Homo sapiens: one gene and its partner. The protein of the gene in region 2 purifies or fractionates together with the protein of the main gene of each other region. This does not show direct contact. Each region holds a gene or a part of one and is shown on either strand. Other genes may lie near its edges.

Evidence for each region.
Region 1: the proteins of PRODH (region 2) and BRAP purify together in Homo sapiens (affinity purification with mass spectrometry; 2 studies listed by BioGRID and IntAct, with this or other methods). This does not show direct contact.

What each region holds. Positions count from the first base shown.
Region 1 is NC_000012.12:111,665,286-111,669,095, forward strand, and holds part of BRAP (BRCA1-associated protein), read right to left. Parts: exon of another isoform or gene 3,673-3,810; intron 3,355-3,672; exon of another isoform or gene 2,950-3,354; intron 2,643-2,949; exon of another isoform or gene 2,435-2,642; intron 2,131-2,434; exon of another isoform or gene 1,646-2,130; intron 503-1,645; coding exon 354-502; intron 1-353. UniProt on the Homo sapiens protein: Negatively regulates MAP kinase activation by limiting the formation of Raf/MEK complexes probably by inactivation of the KSR1 scaffold protein.
Region 2 is NC_000022.11:18,922,567-18,926,376, forward strand, and holds part of PRODH (proline dehydrogenase 1, mitochondrial isoform 1 precursor), read right to left. Parts: intron 3,157-3,810; coding exon 3,122-3,156; intron 2,635-3,121; coding exon 2,485-2,634; intron 614-2,484; coding exon 549-613; intron 368-548; coding exon 251-367; intron 1-250. UniProt on the Homo sapiens protein: Converts proline to delta-1-pyrroline-5-carboxylate.

The DNA of each region.
Region 1 (3,810 bases), on a different chromosome or scaffold from region 2:
AGAGTGAATGGCAGACACCAAGTGCAGCTGATACATGAGATTCCAGACCTAGATTTCACTGCAGCACGAGAGCCTCAAACTAAGCTTTGCTTTTTTTTTTCACTCTCTGGCTCTTGGAAGGAAAGAACAACTCATGCTGCTTTGGGGAATTCCACAAGGGTTCAGAATCAGCATACTAAAAAAGGACTTGGTCTCAGAATGCCGATTCCCTGAACTTAGGAAAGGGAAGGAGAAAAAGGACCTCTTGAATAAAGTCAAATACTTGGAATGGTTCATTTCTGCTGGTGGCTCTTTTTAATTCTGGAAGGGTTGCAATGGGCTTGTACACAGAGGGGTTCGGCCCCTGCACTCACGTGGTATCGTCCCAGCGCTGTAGACACTGGCTGTGGAAGCTGTGGTTACATAACGTTGTGAGGATGCCATTCACAGACTCGTCCATGCGCTCCAGACACACCGTGCACTTGGGGAGTTCAGTCAGGTCCATCACTGGGAGGCTGGCGCCCTACAGGAAACACCTCACATAAGCCTCACTCTTCATCTACCAGCAATACTTTATTTTTCCTTCTTTTTTCTGAGACAGGGTCTCGCTCTCTGTCACCCACGCTGGAGCCCAGTGGCGCAATCATGGCTCATTACAGCCTTGACCTCCCAGGCTCAAGAGATCTGCCCACCTCAGGCTCCCCAGTAGCTGGGACTACAGGCATGAGCCACTGTGCCAGGCCTTTCTTCTTTTAATAATAGTTTTCTAGTTGCTTTTTTGACTCCTGGCAGGATATCCTCAATATCATTACTCTAAGCAAGTAATTTAAATTGGTAATATTTTCATTCATTTATTCATTCATTCAAGAAACAGGGATGGAGTACCTCCTGTGTTCCAGCACTGTGCCAGGTACTGGGAGTACAGCGGTGAACAAAACAAAGATCTCTGCCCTTACAGAACTGACATTCCAGGAAGGGAGACTGCTGTCAAAACCTTAACATATAAATCTCAAATGTGACCAGACTCCTAGCTCAAGCTCTAAGTGTCTACGACTATAATAGAACACAAAGGAACAAAAGAATAGCTGGACCTGAAGGATTTTTCCATAGAGTAAGTTATAACTTAACACTTTCTACTCAGTGATGACAGCACCAACAACACTGATTTTTCTTTATTCCCTCATTGTACAGATAGAGATTGAGCCCCTGCTATGTGCAGCAGACAGACACTGTTCTAGGTGTGGAACAGTGGTGAGCAAAAACAGATACGTTAAGTCCAAAAAACAGTCAGCTCCTGCCCCCACAGAGTTTAGAATCTAGTGGAGGGAGAGACAAAAATCAAATTAAAAAGCAAACAGTACAGGAAGCCACAACAGGGTGTGAATTAGGGGGCATGACAGTCTAGATGGTCAGGAAAGGCATTCCTAAGACAGTGCTTGACTTGACGCTTCCAGCCAGAAGACGAGAAAGAATTACTTAGGCAAAGGTCAGGGAGCACACACTTATGGACAGAGAAAAAGCACATTAACCTACAGTCCCTGAAGAGTAGATACTTACAGGAAATCTCTCAAGAAGCCACGTTCATTTAAGAAAGGAATCTCTAAAACTGAGGCCTCGTGCAGCAGCCAGCACAAAGGATGCCCAATTTTATCACGTCAATTTTTTTTTGAGTTTGACAAATTTATCGGTATTTTAGTAAAGACATTCATCTCAGTTGTTTCTCTCTCCCAGCTTGACCTTAGGTTAATATTTCATTTGGGTCAAGAAAAGAATATCTAGGAGAGGTATGTTAACAAACAGGAAAATGGACAAAAATTGATAGTTTGCCTACATTAAAGTAAGTTAAATTCATGTATTTTGATATAATTAAATCATGTAAGAACTAAGAGTTCTATATACATTTCCATTGTTTTACTTGGGGCTCATTCTAAACTTAAATGCTAGTGAACAAGTGTTAGGAATATACACAGGATGCTTCTCTGGAGTTATTACCAACTAAAAGAGCTCAGCGAGCAGTTACCACCAATAAAACAGTCTGAAGCTGCCTCCAAATATAATATTGTAGGAGTTTTCAAGGAAATGTTTATACTGTATGCTTCTTTTGTCTGTGACTATGCTTTTAAAGATGTGTTTAACTGTCACATTAAAAAAGATGCCGGGCGGGGTGGCTCACGCCTGTTAAGTCCAGCACTTTGGGAGGCCGAGGCGGGTGGATCACAAGGTCAGGAGTTCAAGATCAGCCTGGCCAAGAGGGTGAAACCCTGTCTCCACTAAAAACACAAAAAATTAGCCGGGTGTGGTCGTGGGTGCCTGTAATCCCAGTTACTTGGGAGGATGAGGCAGAGAATTTCTTGAACCCAGGAGGTAGAGGATGCAGTGAGCTGAGATCACACCACTGCACTCCAGCCTGGGAGACAGAGTGAAACTCCGTCTCAAAAAAAAAAAAAAAAAAAAAAAGCTCATACACAATACAAAAATACAAAAACTAACACCCTACAATATACAAATCTCACAAAGTATATGTGGTGAGATTCCAAAAAAATGTTTGAAGATGCATTTTCTTTCCTTCTACTCCAGTATCTAAAATGTGCTTTTTGAGAGGCCATTGGTCAACATGTATACATTTAAAATCAACCATGTAATTTTACTAGTAAGAAAGCTGGGGCTGGCACGGTGGCTCACACCCGTAATCCCAGCACTTTGGGAGGCCAAGGCAGGCGGATCACGAGGTCAAGAGTTTGAGACCAGCCTGGCCAACGTGGTGAAACCCCATCTCTACTAAGAACACAAAAATTAGCTGGGCATGGTGGTGCATACCTGTAATCCCAGCTACTCAGGAGGCTGAGGCAGGAGAATCACTTGAACCTGGGAGGCATAGGCTGCAGTGAGCCGAGACTGCTCCAATGCACTCCAGCCTGGGCGACAGAGCAAGACTCCGTCTGGGTCGGGGCGGGGTGTGGGGGAAGCCAGTAGTTAAGTTCAATTTAAATTGGATTCACAAGTTAGTAATTTAAATCCTCAGACAAAGTTACAGAAAGTGTATCTTCTTGTTTTCCATCTTCATACAATGTTAATTTTTTTTTTTTTGGTGTTTATACTTTTTAAAAAAATAAAAATAGTCAAATGCTTAATATGTACATTTAATTTTTTGGTGGTGGTTTGTATTTTAAAAGAAACAGCTTCCTTATGATTTGGCTCAAGTTCTGGTGGAAATGCTTACAGCAACTAGCTAATAAACAAAAAACAAGAGAAGCACATTCGAAATACTGATTTACTTTGGTAGCAAATGGTTTTTCTTTGAAGACAAATGAAGATACACAAGACCCATTAAGGTGAAGTGGGCTATTTCAAATATTCAACAGTTTACATTAAAAAGAATTCTTTTTTTTTTTTTTTAATTTGTTTTTTTTGAGACAGAGTCTCGCTCTGTCGCCCAGGCTGGAGTGCAGTGGCACAATCTCGGCTCACTGCAAGCTCCGCCTCCCGGGTTCACGCCATTCTCCTGCCTCAGCCTCCCGAGTAGCTGGGACTACAGGTGCCCACCACAACGCCTAGCTAATTTTTTGTATTTTTAGTAGAGATGGGTTTTCACCATGTTAACCAAGATGGTCTCGATCTCCTGACCTCGTGATCCACCCTCAACCTCCCAAAGTGCTGGGATTACAGGCGTGAGCCACTGCGTCTGGCCAAAAAAAATTCTTTTAAGAGCTAAGCATCTGTATCCACTGATAGCAATGCAATACCTACTTTATGATGACTTGAAACAAAACAAATGCCTATAAGGAAAAAAGCTGCATTTTAATTTTATCTAAATTTACGTTCAGTCAATAG
Region 2 (3,810 bases):
GCTGCTGATGCACGCCCACGCCCTGCAGGGCTGGGTCTCCAGCCCTCCTGCCAGCATCTCCCCTCTCTGTTCAGAGTCCCTCTGACCTCCTCCTCCCCACCAGGCCAACCCCAGCAGCTGCAGAGTGAGCCACATGCCCTGGGTGAGTTCCCAAAACCACCTCCGACCACTGCCCACCATGCCCCGTGTGACCCCACGGTGCCCACCCCCTCACAAGCCACAGGAGTGGGGAAGGGGAAGGCTGCCCCACCTGCAGCACCGCCACCTCCAGCTTGGTGTCCATGGCAGCCAGGCCCGCCTGCCCTTGCTCCACAGCCATTTGGTGAAAGAAGCACCTCCACTTGGCCAGCACCTCTGAGAACTGCAGCTGCAAACGCAGGCCTGAATGCCATCTGCACACGCCCCTGCCCACCCCAGTCCCCCACACAGCCCCTGTGGCCAGCTCAGGCCTCTAAGGCATGGGCACCTGTGTTTTTGGTGGATGCCCACAGCTGCCCTGAGATCTCGCACAGCACCAGACTCTGCAGGTGGAAGGTTCTAGCACTTACCAGAAACTGGGGTCTCCCCAGTGCTGTGAGCTTAATGGCTATGAAGCCGTCATCGCTGACTCTACCTGTCAGAAGCCACAGGAAAAGCCATGACAGCCCTGAGAGGTGCATGGAGGCAGCGCAGGGTGCGACAGGGAGGGCCAGGGCCTGGCCAGCCCACAGCAGGCTCCTGACCCCACCCCACCCCGCCCATGAAGTCCTTGCACATGGCGCTCTAGAGGCCCTGTGGAGATGGGAGGGGGCTCCGTGGCGGGGTTTCTGTTTCCATGCAGGTGTGGGACAGCAGTGGGCACAGGAGCTGCCTGTCCCCTGCCAAGCAGCCCCCACAGGCTCCCTGCCTCGGTTTCCTTCCCTGTGCCACCAGCACCACAGGCTGCTCACACGTGGGTCACAGGACCCAGAAACACCGAGCGTGGCTAAGACAGAGACACCCCAGCGAGGTCCCCTTGCTCAGGCCTCTGCCCCAGAGACCGAGTCTCTCAGGAACCTCTGACGCAAGCGCAGGCTCCTGCCCCCGTGCAGCCAGCCCGCAGTCCCACCCTGTCCTCCAGGCCAGCCCTCCTGCAGCATTCTTGCCCCTGACACTTCTTTCCAAGCAACAACCAGAAATGTTCCTTTAAAGTGAAAGCAGATCTTACCATCTCATCTTGTTTCACGCCACCCCAATGCAGGGCCTTCCCCTTCCACCTGCCCTGGGAGAACAGGCAATGGACGAGGAGAAGACGCCCCTCACCCTGATGGCCCAGCATTCAGCTGGCCACTCTGACCCTCAGCCCCCATCAGGAGGCGGCTTCCAAGCACTGCTCAGAAGTGCCAGGTGCAGCGGCATGCACCTATAATCCCAGCACTTTGGGAGGCCAAAGTGTAAGGTTCGCTTGAGGCCAGGAGTTTGAGACCAGCCTGGGCAACATGGTGAAACACCATCTCTACAAAAAATATGAAAATTAGCTGGGTGTGGTAGTGTGTGCCTGTAATCCCAGCACTTTGGGAGGCCAAGGTGGAGGGATCACTTGAGCCCAGGAGTTCCAGGCCAACCAGGGCAACATAGTGAGACCTCATTTTTTTTTTTTTTTTTTGAGATGGAGTCTCACTCTGTCGCCCAGGCTGGAGTGCAGTGGCGCAATCTTGGCTCACTGCAACCTCCGCCTCCTGGATTCAAGTGATTCTCCTGTCTCAGCCTCCCAAGTAGCTGGGATTACAAGCGCCTGCTGCCACGCCCGGCTAATTTTTTGTATTTTAGTGGAGACGGAGTTTCACCATGTTGCCCAGGCTGGTCTTGAACTGAGCTCAGGCAATCCACCCGCCTTGGCCTCCCAAATTGCTGGGATTAGAGGCGTGAGCACTCCAGCCTGGGTGACAGAGCAAGATCCAGTCTCATTTGAAGCAAACAAACAAAAACATAAACAGGCCTGGGACCCGCTGCCCCTGACGGAGGGCTGCTGGGGCCAGCATGGGGCTGTGCAGGTCGGATGTTTCTAACACTGAAGGACATTGGGCCTTGCTGACCTCTGGCTTCTCTATCCCTGGAAACACCTGCTGCCCCCACCGCTGGCCCCCAGAGGCTGTGTCAGGGAAGGACAGAAGATGCGGCACCAGCTCCCTGAATGGAACCTCCACCCTGGGCTAAGTGTGGCTCGGCAGCTGACATGGACCAACTTCCTGCAGCTCCCGATCCTGGCCCTGAGCCAGGGAGAAGGGTGGGGGGCATGAGGCGGGATCAGGGAACAGGGAGCTGGGGCAGGAGAGGAGATGCCTTCTGGGAGGCAGTGGGGCCCCTCAGGAAGGGGCTGAACAGTGAGGGACCCAAGTGTGGTCAGAACCCAGCCCTCTGGCTCCTGCCCCAGCTTAGTGTTCACCCACCGGCACCTCCATGAGCCCAGGGGTCCGCTCAGGCTGGGACATGGCAGGGGTATAGCCAGCAAAGAGGGGGCCCCACCTGAGGCTTCGATGCAGCGCAAGAATGTCTCCATGTGGCTGTCGCACTTGGCCTCATTGGCGTAGAAGTAGGTGCGGGCACTGATGACACCATTCCTGCGGTCCCCGAAGGCCCAGTGGGCCTGGTATTGCTTGTCCCGCTTATTCGTGCCTGGAATAGCGAATGCACGGCCTGAGCACAGCTCCAAACACCCACCCCCAGCACCCACACACCAATAGCCCAGGGCCCCTGCCCTCAGGAGGGCTCCAAGCATAGTGGCCTTGCCAGCCTGGCCCTGGCACTGCACTGCCCCATGGTTCCCATCCCCAAGCCCACCCTCCTGTCTACACCGCGGCTCTTCCACCTGGAGTGCTGCATCCCCCTGGCTAAGCCTCCTCATGAGGCCAGGACGGCAGTCTCCTTAACAAAGGCCTAGGTCCACCAGGAGGCCATGAAAAAGGAGCAGGGCGTCTCCCCAGACACTTGCGAGTATGTCAGAGCCCAGAGCGACAGGGCAGGTGCCCTGGACATAGGGAGGAGCCCGGGCTCCGACGTCACCCCAAGGCCCACTTGTGCCCCAGCCTAGACTCTCCTGAGCCACCAAGGGGTGTGCGGAGTCGGGAGGGAGTCTGTTCCTGCGCGGCAGCCTCTCACTCACCACTGCCATCCCTCTCCGCAGCTGAGGTGCAGGACCTGTGGGAAGGAGGGGGAGAGCAAAGGTCAGGGTCACGCCACCTGAGCCTCAGGTGACAGGCACGTTCCCACTGAGGCTGCACGGAGGGCCCCACCACAACCCCGGTGGAGGGTAGATTCCAAGGTGCAGCCCCAGCCCCACCCCTAGCCTGGGGTGGAACACTTGGGCCTGGGAGGGGCAGCAGTTTATGGGGCTGCTGTGTCCCAAGGGCTCAGGAAGCCCGGGGCTCCTTGTGGGTGGAGAAATCAGAACGATATTCCTGAGCTCTCAGAACAGCCCAGGGCTTGCAGCAGGTTCTCAAATAAAGGTAGTTACCTGGTTCCAAGACAGAGCCAGTCAGGGCTGAGAGGAACGGAGGCGGGAAGGCACCAGCACACAGAGGTCCCCAAATCCCCAGCGAGGCCCCCTTACTCAGGCCTCCACCCCAGAGCCAGGGTCTCCCAGGCAGCTCTGATGCAAGCACAGGCTCCTGCCCCCGCACAGCCAGCCCTGCAGTCCCGCCCTGTCCTCCAGGCCGGCCCTCCTGTAGCATTCTTGCCCCGACACTTCTTTTCCAAGCAACAACCAGAAATGTTCCTTTAAAGTGAAAGCAGATCTTACCATCTCATCTTGTTTCACGCCACCCCACCCAGGGTTCCCATCATTTCCTAGTA